Regions from separate parts of the Homo sapiens genome. Here region 1 is linked to region 2. The links come from fine-mapping of genetic effects on gene expression. A gene starts in region 2. The other region holds a variant in brackets. All regions are shown on one strand. Distances are between the middles of the regions. Region 1 overlaps DIAPH1 (diaphanous related formin 1). Region 2 holds the start of RELL2 (RELT like 2).

The links.
Region 1: its variant is fine-mapped to the expression of RELL2 in nucleus accumbens (GTEx, PIP 0.93).

Annotation. Positions count from the first base shown.
Region 1 is chr5:141,517,795-141,526,908 of GRCh38, reverse strand. DIAPH1 (diaphanous related formin 1) reads left to right here. Exons shown (of 28, transcript NM_005219.5): 25 at 448-612; 26 at 736-871; 27 at 2,680-2,766. It overlaps LOC124901091 (a long non-coding RNA gene), which reads right to left. Exons shown (of 2, transcript XR_007058971.1): 2 at 6,273-7,928. Among named protein-coding and RNA genes, the nearest start is that of PCDHGC5, 33 kb to the right of the region's middle. RefSeq lists an enhancer at 5,393-5,687. The variant A/C (reference allele first, on the strand shown) is at 4,360.
Region 2 is chr5:141,632,860-141,641,973 of GRCh38, reverse strand. It overlaps RELL2 (RELT like 2), which reads right to left and starts at 4,977. Exons shown (of 7, transcript NM_173828.5): 1 at 3,565-4,977; 2 at 3,114-3,179; 3 at 2,953-3,019; 4 at 2,325-2,510; 5 at 1,679-2,054; 6 at 1,529-1,562; 7 at 910-1,303. The coding sequence starts at 3,748. The coding sequence ends at 1,530. HDAC3 (histone deacetylase 3) reads left to right here and starts at 5,125. Exons shown (of 15, transcript NM_003883.4): 1 at 5,125-5,238; 2 at 5,344-5,426; 3 at 7,021-7,163. The coding sequence starts at 5,184. FCHSD1 (FCH and double SH3 domains 1) reads left to right here. Exons shown (of 20, transcript NM_033449.3): 19 at 217-272; 20 at 411-2,672. The coding sequence ends at 476. RefSeq lists enhancers at 3,569-3,688, 4,389-4,438, 7,676-7,805 and silencers at 4,949-5,238, 5,299-5,348, 5,358-5,652.

The DNA.
Region 1 (9,114 bases), 120 kb after region 2:
TGGTCAGCATGGTGAAACCCCATCTCTACTAAAAATACAAAAAAATCAGCTGGGCGTGATGGTGCGCGCCTGTAGTTCCAGCTACTTGGGAGGCTGAGGCAGGAGAATTGCTTGAACCCAGGAGGTGGAGGTTGCAATGAGCCAAGATCGCGCCACTGCACTCCTGCCCGGCGATAGAACAAAACCCTGTCTCAAACAAACAAACACAAACAAACAAACAAACAACAGTTTAAACTGCCACCTTCTTTTTTTATAGGTGTACCATAGTTCATGGTTTACTATTCCCCTATTTAGGGGTACCTACATGGCTTTGGTTTTTGCTGTTATAAACAGTGCTGTATTGAACATCCCTTTGCATGCCAGTACTCATCTTTGAGTAATTCCTTGGGCTAGAGAAGTGGGTCTGCTTCTTGGTCTTGGTCTTGGTCCTTTACTCCTTGGCTGCACAGCTTTGTGAAGGATGCACAGGAACAGTATAACAAGCTGCGGATGATGCATTCTAACATGGAGACCCTCTATAAGGAGCTGGGCGAGTACTTCCTCTTTGACCCCAAGAAGTTGTCTGTTGAAGAATTTTTCATGGATCTTCACAATTTTCGGAATATGTTTTTGGTGAGCAAGGGATACTTGCTGACTGAATCTTTTGTGGGCATTTCTCACTTTCCCCTGGGTTCCTGTTGGCTGGTAGTAGGTATACAATGCCCATGTGTTCCTTCCTCCTCTTCCCTGCCCCAGCAAGCAGTCAAGGAGAACCAGAAGCGGCGGGAGACAGAAGAAAAGATGAGGCGAGCAAAACTAGCCAAGGAGAAGGCAGAGAAGGAGCGGCTAGAGAAGCAGCAGAAGAGAGAGCAACTCATAGACATGAATGCAGGTGAGGAGTGAAGACGGGTTGATGGGCTGAGATAGGAATGTTGGGAAGACTTCTCTGCCTAGAGTCTAGAGGCAGAGTCTCATGTCTGAGCTCACCTCCTGGCAAATGATTTTTGGCAGTCTTCACTCCGAGATCCTGATGCCGGACTTTAACCCCAATTCTGATACATGCGCATTCCAACTTGCCCTGGTTAAACTATTACCTTTTCTCTCCTTTGCTCGCTCTTGCATTCTCTCTCATTCCCCTGTGATTGTGGTATTGCTGTGATATATACTGTTTTCCTTCTGTCCATCCAAAGGTTCCTCTGGCCTGTTCTCATTCCCTCCACTAAATCTTTCGGGTTTTTTTCTGTAAAATATTTTCCTGACGCTCCTCCCATCTTTTAATTGTGGCGTGTCTTCCCTTTCTGCTTATTTCACAAAGTACTATGTCCCTAGTACCTTAGCACAGTTGTATGCACAATTAGATTTTAAATGGATTGAACTTTTGGAGCGGGTGGGGAGCCGGTCACCCTCTTCTTTCTTCAGCAGAATCTCTGTTTCACTACCAGAAGCATGTCTTTGTTGAAACATATGGTTTCAATTACTGGCCCTCTGTTTCCTGTCTCTGCTTCTTTCTTGCTGCAGATTCCCTACCCCTTCGCCCCCACTGCTCTCTCTGTGGGCAGCGGAAATACAGCATACACTGCTCACACAGCACTGAGCCCATGCCACCCTCCTCTAAACCTGAGGGGCCACAAACCTTCTGCAAATGAAGAGGTGTTCACAGAGCTGCTGAGTTTGTTAGGAATCAGTATTTTACAGAGCACAGGCACAAGGGCTGCTCTGATACCTCTTGCTACCAGGGACTTTTTATACTTTTCTGTAAAGCAATTTCCTTGCCCTTAGTTGTAAGCCACAACTTCGTAATGCTATTAAAGCCCACACCAAGTATCCTTCACCTTCCCCTGGGACTCCAGGGTTTGTCCCCAGGTACTGGCTAGGATGCAGTGGGGGAAGGTGGAGTCCCGCTGACATGTGGGATGAGGGCTGCACACGGTCAACAGGTGGCGTAATGGACCTTGCCCAGTTTCCAGTACCCGGGTCAAGCAAATGAGGGTGGAATGTAGGTCAGCTGCACTGGTGATGCTCAGCCAGCAGGTGGCGCTGGGAGCAGTGAGCCCCAGCCTTGGATCTGGCAGCCTATGGACTTTTTGGGATTTCACAGTTTCAGATTTCACTATCCTAAGCTGTTGTCATGGAAACCGAGCCAGGCTAGAACAAGGATTCTACATTAACTCTTTGTATTCCAGCCAGGCTGCTCCTCTTAGATGCAGAGGACTTAGACATCAGGAAGACTTAGCCACTGGAGGCAGTACTTCAGGAAAGTGCACTCTTTGATCAGTGGTCTTTCCTCGGCCCTGCTCTGAAACCTAACCAGGCAAAACACTTTAGGATAAAAGGGAGTGATATAGTTGCTTAGTAATTTCACAATCGTAGTCTCTACTTATCCTGGTCTTGGAGTTGGGCAGTTGTATAATTTTGTTGCTAGTCCTGATTGGGGTGGGGAGGATGGCATTGCGGGAAAATATCCCAAGGTCTGCATTGGATAATAGGCAATGAGATCTTTTGTTTTAACCATTTTTTAGCAGATACAAGTAAACATGAGCGTGTGAGACTTAAGGCTGAGCTCTCTTTGCCTCTTCTTAGCTGCCAGCTGCTGTGGGAGAGGGGAAATCAAGCAATAGCCATTCATTTTGTGTGGGGCTTGATATTTGCCATGCTGCTCTGGCTGAAGAGTTCACATCTCCATCTTGTTCTTTATAACAGAGGGCGATGAGACAGGTGTGATGGACAGTCTTCTAGAAGCCCTGCAGTCAGGGGCAGCATTCCGACGGAAGAGAGGGCCCCGTCAAGGTAAGTAAGCACATGGAGCTCATCCTGGGTGTCGAAGGGGGTGAGGGCTCTCTACTCCTGCCAGTCTGCGGCTAAAGAGCAAATAATGATGCTCTAAGCATCTTTTTAGTCCCTGCATCCAGAACGGATTATCTAGTCCTCTTCTTCCCATGTTACAGAGTAGCGACTTAGAAAACTGGGGTTTAAGGGACTGGCAATAAATCAGTTACATTGGATTATGCCGCATTTCTCCCCACTCTTGAAGCAGATATTTGGAACAAAGGAACTGAGCTGCAGGACCCAGGGATTTGAGTTGGCATTTGTGTGTATGAACAAAAGTTGATCTAAATACAAAATGTATATTAGATATAGATTGAAATTCAAAGAAAAAATAAGTCAGAGTCCTTACTCTGGACTTCACAAGCAGAAGACATACGTAGAGAGAACTAATAATAGAAAGTATAAAATTTTGTAGACAGGTTTAGGCATCATTATTCCCAGATAGAAAAATATAGAGGAGCATCTCAGTTGAAGGATTATGCCGTGTCTGAAAACTACCTTTTCCTTGAGTGCAGTTAGCCTCTATTGCCCTTGCCTTCCCCATCACTGCCCTGCAATCTCCTTTCATGTCCTTTGGAAGATCTAAGTGGATTACATTGAGCTAGAGATTCTAAAAAGAATTATGGAGCTAGGACAAGTGATCCAGGCATTAGTATGGGAAAAGATTAATGAATAAGTTCCCTTTCAGGGAAGCTTACAGTGGCCAAGAGACTAATTCAAAGGAAGGTATAGGCAAGTCTGCCCCTCATGTGGAGTTGACCTGCACTATCGTGTCTAGTGAAGGTCTTTTGAGGCTAGGAGTGGTGGCTTCTTTACTAATTTGAAGAGTGGGAATTACAAAAAAAGGCATCATTAGAGGTTTCTACTTCAGAGGGACTTAAATCTATGTTCCCTGTTTCCTGGCTGTTGCATTGTGTAGGCCCATTTGATAGTTATACTTTGAGATTATTGTAAACAGAAGGAGTTAACACAGCTTGCTTTGGCCAGTGCTTAGCTATTAATACAGTGGTATCTGTAGGGCCTGTAGTACCTGCCACAGCCTGGAAAGGGGGACCTTAGAGCATGCTAGCCTATGTAAACTCAGTATTCTGGCCCAACAACAGCCATCACTGTGAGTTTCATCTGTAATGGCTGGCTGCCCATTTCTACCTATACTCTGAATAACCAGAGTGATACTCCCTTCTGAGGGTTCTCTTGTATGACTTCAGAATGTTCCCCAAACTGAAAGCTCCCGAGTCAAAGTTCTTACCCATTTTCTGGCATTCTCTGAGTACAGGCTTTCTAAAGCGTGGGGAGAAGTGGATATGAAGAGCTGAGTACTCTCTGGGCTCGAGCATTTAGTCTTATAGATAGGTGTTTGCAAGGAGAGTACAGCTAGAGGTACTATTACTCCTGTATTTTGTCTTTATAGGTTCTTACAACATTATTTCCTACTGACCACACAAGGTGATGTGGCCTTAACATTAAGCATTTCTAGCCTTACAAAAATACATTGCATCTTATTGTTTTTTTTTTTTTTTTTTTTGACCCCGTCGGCTAAGTGCCTGCATCAGA[A/C]TTTTGGTGGGGAATTCCCTTTTAAGCCTCTTCCTGTGGAACTATACTAGAATCCCAGATGCTTCCTGTCCACAGGTAGCCAGACATCAGTGGCTTCCCTCTGCTGGGGAAGCCCCATTCTTCACTTCTTTCCAAGTAGAAAATCAGAACTCACAGGTGGAGGAAGGAGGAATTTTGTTGGAAACTAACCTTCCAGCAGAGGACCTGAATTAGTCAAAGTACTCTCTCCCATGCAAGAGGGAATAGGAGGAGACTTATACTAGGAGATACTAAATTGGAAAGTAGGTGAAATGACAATTACATATATTTTAAGTGGCTCTAGCCTATAAGCTTATCTTTCTAGGCTCTGGGTCCACTAAATACACTTGAATATATCTGGGAGAATCTCAAGGGAGACATTTGTAGTTATTCTGGTAACTCTTTAGACCCTGGTGCATTCACATCATGTAAAGTGATGTGATGCGGTCTCACATTAAACAGGAGGATAGCCATCAGAGTAGATTACAAAGAACACAGGGCTAGGTAGGGATCAAAAGACCTAAAGTCACATCTAGTTCTGATGCTGTCTGTGTTATCCTAAGCAAGTCACTTAATGTTTCTGGGACTCAGTTCCTCAGGTATAAAATGAGAGTTGGACTAGAATGAATGGTCTGCAGGGTCCCTTCCAGCTCTAATATTTTTTTTGTGCAGTGACAACAGGATTAAGAGGAGAGAGAGGCTGGACTTAGATGGCCCCATTCTCAAAATACAAAGGCTCCACTGGCTATAGGTTTCTCTATGCAGCTACTGAATTTGGCTGTTCCACCCCTTGCCTGGCTGTCTCTGACTATTCCTCTTGGCTGATTGCTTTGAGCTAAAAAAACAGAGGCACTGTGGAACATATCTGCCTCATAGCCCTCCTTTTTTCCAGAGAGGCAGCTGTCCCTATTCAAAGACACTAGCTTTTTCCCTAGAATTTAAAGGAATGTTAAATTCTTCCGGTCTCTGGAGACCTGGGGGAGTGACCAGTATACAAAGACTCATTGAGGAGTTGGAAGAGGAGAGTTACTATCAGGCTTGGTTCATTAAAAGCAACATGTAAACTCCTGTGATCCGCAGGGTGTGGGAGAACAATGGTTGGAGTGTCAAGGGGAAGAATCCATGTGATTGTATTACAGCTGCTATTTCAGGCCCATGATTGAGTCAGCTTGTGGTTTTAATGACTCAACTTTATCTCCATGTCTGAATTGTGGCCTCTTGTATACAAGTCATTTGCTCACTGGGATAAAAGCCAAGGGAAGAAAGAAATTCAACTCTTCCTTTCCTTCCCTCTACCATTTCCCAGCTTCCCTATAAGCTCCATCCATCTAACAGAACCATAGAGTTGGAAAGACTCTAAAGACTTCCAGTGATTAGTATCTAACCTTCTCATAGGGAAAGGGATTAAAACCAGATAAGGTGACTAACACGGTGAAACTCTGTCTCTACCAAAAATACAAAAAATTAGCCGGGCGTGGTGGCAGGCACCTGTAGTCCCAGCTACTCAGGAGGCTGAGGCAGGAGAATGGCATGAACCCAGGAGGCGGAGCTTGCAGTGAGCCGAGATTGCGCCACTGCACTTCAGCCTGGGTGACAGAATGAGACTCCATCTCAAAAAAATAAAAATAAAAAACAGATAAAGTCTTGCCCAGGTCTACATGGCTAATGACAGAGCACTGTAGCCCACTTTTGTGACTCCAAGTCCAGGCCTGTTTCCCCTCAGCCTGCGTGATTGAACAGGAGACAGCAGTGAACCCACAGTATGGGCCGGAAATATTCTTTCATACCTTCCAGCAAGGAGAGTCGGACATAATGACATTGCTTCAGGAAGGTGCTCTCATGACCACCTGTGTTAGTCTATTTTGTATTATTATAAAGAAATACTGGAGACTGGGTAATTTATAAAGAAAAGGGGTTTATTTGGCTGACAGTTCTGCAGACTGTAGAGAAAGCATGGCGCCAGCATCTGCTGTTGAGGCCTCAGGAAGCTTCCAATCAAGGGGGGAGAAGGTGTATCACAAGGCGGAAGTGGGAGCTAGAGAGATGCCAGGCTCTTTTAAACAACCAGTGCTTGTATGAGCTCATTACTGTGGGGAGGGCACCAAGCCACTCATAAGGGATCCACCCCATGACCCAAGTGCCTCCCACTAGGCCCCACCTCCAACATTGTAGTCCACATTTCAGCATGAGGTTTGGAGGGGTCATACATCCAAACCATATCACCTCCTATCTAGAGAAGGTTGCTAAGAATATTTCCTGTACCACTGCTTATTCTCCCCCCTACTTTTGTAAATAGGACAAGAAACATAATTAGCAGAGTTTGAGACAAGAATGAGTTATTTAGTGTGATGATGATTGCCCCATCTGTCCTAGTTTCCTCTTCCCTAAGGAAGCTTAATGTATTAACAAGAGCACTTCCTCTTTAGTAATAGTTCCTAGCCTACGTTTTATAAAGGTCTTTTTTCAAATCACTAACCTTTTTAAAACTTGCGTTATATGGTTGATTTTGCTGGTGTTTTTATCCTAGCCCACCCCTAACTTCTAGGAATCTGTCCTCAGAGAGCATTCACCAGTATCTCAACATTGTTCCCTTTTCCCACACAGCCTGTGGGACTGTTCTCTTGTAGTCAAAATATTTATCTGGTTCTATGGCTACTTTTCAATAGTCTAATAACAAGTGAGTAAGTTGGGGGAAGCATGGGGAGGTCAGTTTTTCTTGACTGTTCAACCTGCTGAGCATAATGGTGAGTGAGTGGAAAGCTGGGAGACCTGTTCCAACAAGAGCTTTCTCATCCCCTGACCTTAGGCCAAATCACACCCTCCCTGGTGTATAGGCTTTCAAGGCTTAAAAGGGAAATTTTGATCTTCTCCCTACCTACTCTCTGCTCCTGGTTCTTATGAAGTTTGTAATACATCAGAAGCTTCTTGAGTCCAGAAAAGTCTAGAAACACCACTTGGTTAGGTACAACTGGTATCTTCTTATTTTGGAGGAAGAAACCACAGAAAGCAGCAGCTAAAGACCTACCACATGGGACCTCTGCCTTCTCCTGTGTTGCCCAGGACAAGTGGCCCAGTGTTCTTTTCCCAAGGTCTGGAGTCAGATGTTATTTCAACATATATATACCACTAGAGTTACACACACACACACACATGCACAGAGTCGCAGTGTCTTCTCAACTGTTGGAGACTGAATTCAAAGAAATAATAAAATGATAGGAAACTACTACCCTTCTGGATATGAGAAATGGGGTCTAGAGAGGGAGTACTTCAGAAGAGAGTGGAAATGTAGGAGGCCTGAGGAAGATTTTGGTGGTAAGGACAGTATGAGAAATGCACACATGTAGACCATCATAGTCACACTCACGTAGGCTCCTTTTCCTCACTTGTCTCAGTCACGGGGCATTAGTTTATGTTCATAATCCAATAAATGGTTTTGTGAAAATCCCACAGTCTCGGGCACATACCTATGATCTGTAACTAGATAAGTCCTGTGGCTGTCAGTCAGGGTCTTCACTATTCTTTCTCCTCTTGGTAGACAACCTCTTGTGCCCCTGGGAAGTAGAGGAGGAGGAGGAGACCTTTAAATTGGTAACCTGTGTGCATGCTGCGTGTTCCCTGCTTGATCTATGGGCAGCCTCTCCTGGGATGAAAACAGTAGCTCTGGGTCATGGCTCTGCAGGGAGAGAAGACCTGGTTAAGACTTGGGCTTTGGCAGGCTGTGGTGACTCATGCTTGTAATCCCAGAACTTTAGGTTCCAAGGTGGGAGGATTGCTTGAGCCCAGGAGTTCAAGACCAGCCTAGACAACATGGAGAGACCCCATCTCTGCAAAAAAATACAAAAATAGCCAGATATGGTGGCACATGCTTATAGTCCCAGCTACTAGGGAGGCTGAGGTGGGTGGATCACTTGAGCCTGGGAGGTTGAGGCTACGGTGAGCTGTGATTGCGCTGCTGCACTCCAGCCTGGGCGACTGAGATTCCATCAAAAAAAAAAAAAAAAAGACGGGCTATCTGATCCTGTTTGGCTTCTGCCTACCTAAAGCTTTTTGCTGGTCCAAAAAGGCGCTTCATTCCAGTCATGCAGCTGCCCCAGTCTTGGTCTTTATTTAGGAGTGCTCGGCTCTTTCATCTGGTCCTGCTTCTAAAACATTCCGGTACTGCTTTCTCCACTCCAGCTTTCCCAGATCTCCAGGAAGTCTTTTTTTTTTTTTTTTTTTTCCAATTGAGCTATCATTTACATACCTAAAATTCACCTTTTAAAAATGTATAATTCAGGGGTTTTAGAATATCCACAAGATTGTATAACCATTACTATCTAATTCCAGGACGTTTCATCATCCCCAGAAGAAAAACTTCATAATCCCCATTAGCAGTCACTACTGATTCTCCCCTCCCCTTGCCTCTGGCAACCACCAGTCTATTTTCTATCTCTGGGTTTGCCTGTGCTGGACATTTCGCAGAAGCTGACCCATAACATATGGCCTTTCGTGTCAGGCTTCTTTCGTCCCAGACAGCTGTTTGTGTATACACAGTTGCTCTGTGCTGTTCTGGGGCATGGGAGGAGGAAACATCATGAGATGGGCATGGTCTCAAGGAGTGGCCTTCCTGCTGCAGATACTGGGGCCATAAGCCTAGATACCATAAATGAATATGAGAGTCTTGGGGATGAAACCCAGCAGTTAGAACAGAAACTCGTGGATTGATTTGGTTCTTCTTTTCTAATCTGGTATGACAGC
Region 2 (9,114 bases):
ATCCTATCTCCCTTAGTTTTGTACCTTGAGCAGAGCTGATTATACAGCAGTTGCCCAATAAATGTTGAGGACAGTGGATAGAGTGATGGATTTTATGGTCTAGGATGGTGACCATTAATTTAACAAATATTTATAGAATGCCACTGTCCTAAGTGCTGGAGATACAGCATTGAACAAAACAAAGTCTGAAGACTGACTTGTGGTTCTTATTTCCAGACAAAGCCCTGGACTTCCCTGGGTTCCTGGACATGATGGCACCTCGACTCAGGCCGGTAAGGGCCCTTGCCTTGGAGGAGATTGTATGTAGAGGGGTTATTCCAACCAGTCCTGTTTTGTCTGCAGGGCTGAGGGAATAGACAGGGATACCCTTAAGGGAGAACTCTGGAGCACTAACTGTGTGTTCCCTACAGATGCGTCCACCACCTCCCCCGCCGGCTAAAGCCCCGGATCCTGGCCACCCAGATCCCCTCACCTGAAGGCCAGGGAAGCCTTGACCCCCAGTGATGCTGCTGTCCCTATCTTCAAGCTGTCAGACCACACCATCAATGATCCAGAGCAACACAGCCAAAAGCTGGAATCGCCCTTATTTCCACCCTCACCTCCAAGGGTGGAAACTTGCCCCTTCCCATTTCTAGAGCTGGAACCCACTCCTTTTTTTCCCATTGTTCTATCATCTCTAGGACCGGAACTACCTTCTCTTCTGTCATGACCCTATCTAGGGTGGTGAAATGCCTGAAATCTCTGGGGCTGGAAACCATCCATCAAGGTCTCTAGTAGTTCTGGCCCACCTCTTTCCCCACCCTGGCTCCATGACCCACCCCACTCTGGATGCCAGGGTCACTGGGGTTGGGCTGGGGAGAGGAACAGGCCTTGGGAATCAGGAGCTGGAGCCAGGATGCGAAGCAGCTGTAATGGTCTGAGCGGATTTATTGACAATGAATAAAGGGCACGAAGGCCAGGCCAGGGCCTGGGCCTCTTGTGCTAAGAGGGCAGGGGGCCTACGGTGCTATTGCTTTAGGGGCCCACCACGGGCAGGGGCCTGCTCCCAGCTGCCACGCTCTATCATATGGAGCGAGGTGTTGGGGAAGGCGGGGCAGGCAGCCTGTTGCAGGCAGGGGAAGGAGAAGAGACTGAGGGGCTGTGACCTCTCCTGAGGCCCCCAGCCTGAGACTGTGCAACTCCAGGTGGAAGTAGAGCTGGTCCCTCAGCTGGGGGGCAGTGCTGTCCAGTGGAGGGGAGGGCTTTCACGCCCACCCACCCCCTGGCCCTGCCAGCTGGTAGTCCATCAGCACAATGAAGGAGACTTGGAGAAGAGGAAGAATAACACTGTTGCTTCCTGTTCAAGCTGTGTCCAGCTTTTCCCCTGGGGCTCCAGGACCTTCCCTACCTCCACCACCAAACCAAGGGATTTATAGCAAAGGCTAAGCCTGCAGTTTACTCGGGGGGTTCAGGGAGCCGAAAGGCTTAAATAGTTTAAGTAGGTGATGGGAAGATGAGATTACCTCATTTAGGGCTCAGGCAGACTCACCTCACATACTCCCTGCTCCCTGTGGTAGAGACACCTGAGAGAAAGGGGAGGGGTCAACAATGAGAGACCAGGAGTAGGTCCTATCAGTGCCCCCCAGAGTAGAGAGCAATAAGAGCCCAGCCCAGTGCAGTCCCGGCTGTGTTTTCCTACCTGGTGATCAGAAGTGTCTGGTTTGCTTGGCTGCCCATTTGCCTCTTGAGTGGGCAGCCCTGGGCTTGGGCCCCTCCCTCCGGCCCTCAGTGTTGGCTCTGCAGAAGCTCTGGGGTTCCCTTCAAGTGCACGAGGGGTTAGGCTGCTGTCCCTGAGTCCTCCATTCTGTACTGGGGGGCTGGCTAGGACCTGGGGCTGTGGCCTCTCAGGGGGCAGCCTCTCCATGGCAGGCATCCCTGCCTTGGGCTGCCCTCCCCCAGACCCCTGACCACCCCCTGGGTCCTGTCCCCCACCAGAGCCCCAGCTCCTGTCTGTGGGGGAGCCATCACGGTGTTCGTGCAGTCCATAGCGCTTCTCAATGTGTGTCACCCGGAACCTGGGAGGGGAGGGAACACTGGGGTTTAGGACCACAACTCAGAGGCTGCTTGGCCCTCCCCTCTGACCAGGGACATCCTGAGTTTGGTGGCTACTTCCCTCTGGCCTAAGGTAGGGGAGGCCTTCTCAGATTGTGGGGCACATTGTGTAGCCTGACTTCTGCCGGAGCTCCCAGTCCAGGAGGAAAGAGCCAAGGCCCACTTTTGGGATCAGGTGCCTGATCACTGGGCCCCCTACCTCAGCCCCCCTTTCCCTGGAGCACCTGCCCCACCTGCCCACAGAGAACACAGTGGTCTCCCCTGTCCGGGGGCGGCTTTTTCCTTCCTTGGAGCGTCCCTGACGGACAAGTGGAGGCCTCTTGCTGCGGCTGCAATGGAGGCAAGGGGCTGCAGAGCCCAGGTGCACTGTGTGATGATGGGAGGGGGCTCCGTCCTGCAGGCTGGAGGTGGCATCCACACTGGACAGCAGGGAGGAGGGGAGTGAGGGTAACATTTCCATTTCCCTTCATGTTTTGTTTCTTACGTTCTTTCAGCATGCTCCTTAAAACCCCAGAAGCCCCAATTTCCCCAAGCCCCATTTTTTCTTGTCTTTATCTAATAAACTCAATATTAAGATGTTAGTGACCATATGTTCTTCCTCCCAGGGCTGTTTGCTAAAAAGAACACTGCTTAACCCAAAGGAGTGGCACTAGAGGTGAATGTTAGGCTTGATGATATCTAGATGAGAGAGATGGTTTGAAGGAATCGCGATTTCTACAAAACAACTTTCTTCCTATAAGTTAGCCAGCTTTGCCCTTCCCCCAACCCCATACATGCAAGGAGGCTGGGAGAGGATTGTGCTGGAGGAGAGGATACTCTCCAAGGCAAGCTAAGTCATGCTGGCCCTTGTTTCCAGCTCACCTGGACAGCTGCACTGTCCCTTCTCCTTCACTGTCCCCCAGCATCTCCTTCAAGGCCTCAGCATTGGCTGAGGGAAGAAGGAAAAGAGGGAGTCAGTGGAGGTGGAGGTCAGGGCAAGAGAAGGTTGGAGAAGAGGGAGCAAGGGGCTATGCTAGACCCACCTTCATTCTGGATGATGCAGCGAACAATCCTCTCTACTGTGTCCTCATTCATGTCATCGTCCTCAGCTGAAGGATGAAAGAGATTGGCAAGGAAGCAGGAATGAGTCAGCTTTGGGGGAATATTACCTGGTGGCTCCCATCATTTATTGCTTAGGACATACCCTTTTACCTACTTGCTATCATGCTGGACCTCAGCATTTCAGGGACCAGAAAAGATGGGGACACCAATGCAAGCCCAAGACTACCATCCAGAGGACCGTTCCTGCCCATGCTGCTTTCTCTAGTTTTGCTTTCAGAGTGGTGTCACCCCACTTGCTAACTCAAGAGTGCATCACTAGGCTTCCTGAGCAGGTTTGATCAGGATTTGGCCTGGGTCTGTTGGTCAGGGAGGCAGAGGTGTGGGGAGAAGGGTGAAAGGTGACTGAGCCAGGGTTCCAGGCTCCTCACTCACGGGGCTGAAGCTGGGCATCGTCAGGCTCAGAGCCCCTCGACGTGCGGCAGCGGTAGCCCTTCTTCTTGAGCACGTGGCAGATCATGAAGCCTACCAGGCCCATGAGGAAGAAGACCAGCACAAGCAGGAAGAGCATATATAGCCCATGTTGGGGCGGTTCCAGGTCAGGCTGTGGTTCCGACATGAGGCCCTGGGGGGCGAGCGCGGGCCAGGGCGCCTCCTGGGTTTAGGGGGCTGCAGCTGGGAATGGGGGAGGGGTAGGAATGCCGTCCTCAGGATCTGAAACAAGCACGTCTAAGACGTCCGGCTGAGGTCCGGCCCCACCCCCTACCCAACCAGGGAGCTGTCCGGGCCAGGAGTGCTGTTTCGCCTTTCGGCAAGAGGTCAGCGGCAACGCAAGCTCTCTACCACGACCCTGGTCCCGCTTCCCCGACGCCCCGAGCGTTCCCCTTTCCAGCTTGTTCGCGCTTCTGTCCCTCCCAAGGACACTGCAGCACGAGATGGGACGGCATTCTTAGGCGGCGGGAGCAGAAATCCTGCCTGAGTCAGCGCCCGCACCTCCTCCACGCCGGCCTGAGCCAGGCCTCTGCAGCCCCTTCCTCTCAGTACTCCCGCACCCCTCTCCCTTTTTGGTTTCTCCCACCCTGACCACCTGGCCGACCCGGTACCGGTGATTTGGTTCTGGTTCCGGCTTCTGCTGGGGTTCCGGCTCCAGGGGCGTCCTAGTGCGGCTCAGGGCCCCCGACGCCCTTCCGGCGCTCATCCCTTGATTCCTCCCCTCCCCCTTCGCCGCCTCACCGGCCCCGGGCTGTGGCTGCGGATACCCGCGCCGTGGCAGGCGGGGGGAGGGAAGAACAGAGAAGGATGCGGGCTGGCTGAGAGCGGTGGCAGGCTCCGGGCAACTCCGGCCCTGGGTCAGGGAGATCGCCTCCGCAGCCGCCCTGGCTTCCCAAATGCCTTCACCCGTCGCGGGCCCAGGACCAGGGGGCGGAGCGCAGGTGTGCGGGGCGGAGAGCGTGAGCTCTGCGCGCGCGTGACTGCGCCGGGCCCCCCCGGGGCAATGTGCGGCGCCGAGTCTGGGTCCGGGTAGGGGACAGGCGGTCCGGCGTGGGTGTTGTCCACTGGTCTATCCGGTACGCCTGGCGCAGCTCCTGCCCTCAGATGCCCCGACCGAGCGGAGAGTCAGGAATCTTCTCCGAGGGCTGGGGGAAGCCGGCTTTCCGCACCTTTGAGGGACGGAGTGGCGGGATCTTCGGAGCTTCCTAGAGAAGTGACCACGGCCTGCGCCCGGTTTGGGGCAAGCGGCTGGATGGGATGGCTCGGCTTCCCGAGGATCTGACCCCCGGCCGGAGACAAATGGCCCTCGCATCCTAGGAGCTATGCTGCCAGTTCCCTGCCCAACCCGGGACGCTCAAAGCCCCAGATACCGGGAGAGCTGAGCCGGGCGAGGGGCGGAGCTCCCCTGGGGGCGTGGCCTGGGTGTGGATGGAGGCGGGGCCGCAACGCCCAGTTCCGCAGAGGCCGGCTACGTGCTTGCGCAGCACGCACGGCCGGGGAGGGGCTGGCGGCGGCCGCGGGCGGCGGGCGGCGGAGGTGCGGGGCCTGCTCCCGCCGGCACCATGGCCAAGACCGTGGCCTATTTCTACGACCCCGACGTGGGCAACTTCCACTACGGTGAGGAAACAGGGATATGCATGAGGGGTTGGGACACGGAGGTTTTGAGGCGGGGTTGCAACTCCAGGGGTGAGAGCTGACGAACTCTCTTCTCCCCACCCCCAGGAGCTGGACACCCTATGAAGCCCCATCGCCTGGCATTGACCCATAGCCTGGTCCTGCATTACGGTCTCTATAAGAAGATGATCGTGAGTTCCGCCGCCTCGGCCGGGGGTTGGGGGGTGGGGCGAGCTGTGGCCGTAGGGATAGGTGGGCTGGACTGAGTGCATGAAGTGCGACCCGCCCCTAGAGTATCGGGGAGCTGGATAGAAGTCACCAGGAGTACCTTGAAAGTGCAGGGTGTTGGGGGTGGCGTCCTCTGCTTAATGGAAAGTACTTTCTCACCTCAGGTCGGCCACCCTCTGACTGTAGGCACACTAGCCCTTGGCCTAGGGTTAGCGTGATGTGGGGCTGGTTTGAAGACAGAAGGTGTGTTCCTCCTCTGCATTTTAGAGTGTGGATAGGGCCTTGGCCTCAGGAATTAGGGTTAGGGGAGCGGATATCACTGTATCAGGGTGTGAGGTTTACCCTCAGTTCCCACTCCTCTTTTACCACCTTTCTTTACCTCCAAGGAGCTAGGGCTCCAGGGTGGAACGATGCTGCCGTCTTTGTAAATGTGTATGTGCGTGTGGAACAGAGGCGATATTTTAGATATTCCTTTTTCAGCCTGGAATACCTCTACATGGTTCTGCTTAATCGCTATCCAGTTTTTCATCTACCAGACATACACATGCTGTCTTCCCAGCTTGGAATTTATGGCTGTGATATGGGATAGTAACAGTTAAGCCACGCCAGGCGTGGTGGCCCATGCCTGTAATCCCAGCACTTTGGGAGGTTGAAATGGGGGGGATCGCTTGAGGCCAGGAGTTGGAGACCAGCTTGGGCCACAGTGGGACCCACATCTACAAAAAATAAAAATAAAAAAAGTAGCCATGTGCGGTGGGTGTGCCTGTAGTCCCAACTACTTGGGAGGCCGAGGCGAGAGGATGGCTTGGGCCCAGGAGTTTAAAGTTACAGTGATCTATGATCAGCAGCCTGAGTTGACAGGGAGGACCTTGTCTCAAAAGAAAAAATAAGACAAAACAGCTAAACCCAGGCTTTATGTGTTGCTAGGGAAACTAGTGAACAATATGAATGAATGTTCATTGCTTGTGCCAAGGCACAGACAAATGGACTGGTCATAGAAAAGACTGAGGTGATGTTAGTGCAGGAATCTATATCCCTTGAGATTGTTTGCCTGTATGTACCTGTGTGCATTTTCTGGGAGAAGAAAAGCTCTTTCTTGTGCAGTTTTCAAAGAGGTGTGACACATCCCCCTGACCTTCCAAAGATAATAAATCTTTGATTTTAATTAGAAAGTTGACATATATCCCATATATTTGACTCCAGAAAGAAGAATCCAGAGGAAAGAGGACAGAATCAGAGCTTGGGGGAGGAGATGAGCATGGAGAGAACTGGGAATAGGAGATTCCAAGGAACAGGGCAGGTGGATCAGGGCTCAAAGTTGAGAAGGTACGATAGGCTGAGCTGGAGGTGGAAAGGAAAAGAAGTGGTCTTCAGGGGGCTCATTTGTAATAACTTACCTGGTTAATCGGAGTCTCTCTACTGACTTAAGGATTGTGGGATGAGGGGAATGCTATGTTTGGCTTCATATAGTCTCCAGGACTGGGTTCAGTATGGGTGGTCTGAGCCTGTGGAGTGGGGCTGACCCTGCCTGGGTTCATCTTGTGTCTCCATCCCGAGGTCTTCAAGCCATACCAGGCCTCCCAACATGACATGTGCCGCTTCCACTCCGAGGACTACATTGACTTCCTGCAGAGAGTCAGCCCCACCAATATGCAAGGCTTCACCAAGAGTCTTAATGCCTTCAACGTAGGCGATGACTGGTGAGGGAGGACTGGGAGTTTTGATGTCTAACAGTTTAATGCCAAGCCCTTCAGTGAGGTCTTTTGGCAGCAGTGGGAAGATCTCAAGGGGGGCCTACTTGTCAATGCATCATAATTCATTTTATTTGTTTATTCAATAAATATTTATTGGTCACTTGTTCTAGGCAGGCCCTGTGCTAAGTGCTGGGAATGCAGTGATGAACAAAAACAAAATTTTAATATCGTATTTTTGCTAAGTCTTATAAAGAGGAGGTGTATGACAGATTATGAGAGTGTATACGTGGAGGATTGTTTAGCTTGGTGGAGTGGCTGGTCGGTGGGGCCTTCCTAGAGGAAGTAAAGATTGAGCTGAGATCTGAAAAAAGAGTAGAAGTAATCAGATGAAAGATGGTTGGAGGGTGAGGGGAGAAGTATAGCAGGCAGTAGGGACAAGTGCTAAGGGTCTGTGGTAGGACTGAGTATGACTCATTTGAGGAACAGAAAAAAGGCCAAGTGCAGAGTATGAAGAGGAGGTGAACTGAATTGAGGCTAAAGAAATAGGACCTTTTAAAAGCAAACAGCTCTATTATGAATTGGGGTTTTTACCCGTAGAGTAGAGGGAAGCTATCAAAGTGTTTTAAAAAGCAAGGGATCTTAAGAGGGCTATGGGCAGTTAAAAAAACAAAAAAAACAACGAAGGAGTGGTTTGATATCATTAGGTTTACATTGAGCTTGTATCATCCATAGAAGAGTCAGGGTTAGACCCTCTGGGGAAGAGAGTGGACAACAAAGATAAGCCACACTCTACTCTATATCCATGAAAAAATAGTAACCATCACAGCTACCAGTTGCTCAATTCTACTTACTTTTGTTTTTAAACTTTTTATTAGGGAAAATTTCAAAAATTTCTGAAAGTGAAGTAGTGCAGTGACCTCCCATACGTCCATCACCTAGCTTCAACGCTTATGAGCAAATGGCCACTCTTTTTTTTTTTTTTTTTTTTTTTGAGACAGAGTCTCACTCTGTAGCCCAGGCTGGAGTGCAGTGGTGCAGTCTTGGCTCACTGCAACCTCTGCCTCCTGGGTTCAAGCGATTCTCATGCCTCAGACTCCCGAGTAGCTGGGATTACAGGCGCCTGCCACCATGCCTGGCTAATTTTTGTATGTTTAGTAGAGATGGGGTTTCACTATGTTGGTCAGGCTGGTTTTGAACTCCTGACCTCAGGTGATCCACCAGCCTCAGCCTCCAAAAGTGCTGGGATTACAGACGTGAGCCATCGCACCCAGCTGAGCAAGTGGCCACTCTTACTTCATCTATACTCCCTCATGTTAGATTGTTTTAAAGCAGATCCTAGATGTTATATCCTTTTATCCATAAATATTTTATTATGTATCTCTAAATGATACTCTTTTAAAAAAACATAGTATCATTATCAAACCTAAAAAGTTAACAGTGATTCCTTAATGTCATCAAATATGGGATCAATATTCAAATTTCTGCAGTTGTCTCATAATTATTTTGTAGCTAATTTAAATCCAGATCTAAACAAGGTCTATACAGTGCATTTGGTTGATATGTCTCTTAAGACTTTTAATTTGTAGCTTTTCTGTCACCCCCTTGAATTTATTTCTTGAAGAAACCAGGTTGTTGATCCTGTAGAATTTCTTATGATAGCTACCATTTACTGAGTGCTTACTCTGCTAGGTATTATGCCAAGGGTTGCTGGTAAATCCACTTAATTCTCATACCAATCCTTAGATGTATTATAATAGACCTTTTTCTGATGTTATATATAAGTAAATTGAGGTTTGGGAATATCTAGGTAACTTAGCCGTAGTCACATAACTGGTCATTGGAGGGGGCATGATCCAGATCCCGGGTTTTTAAACCACTAATCTGTTTTCCTGAAAGATCTTAATGACAGAAGCAGCCAGGGCTGTAGGATAGAGGCCAACTCATTAGGCTGGCATTG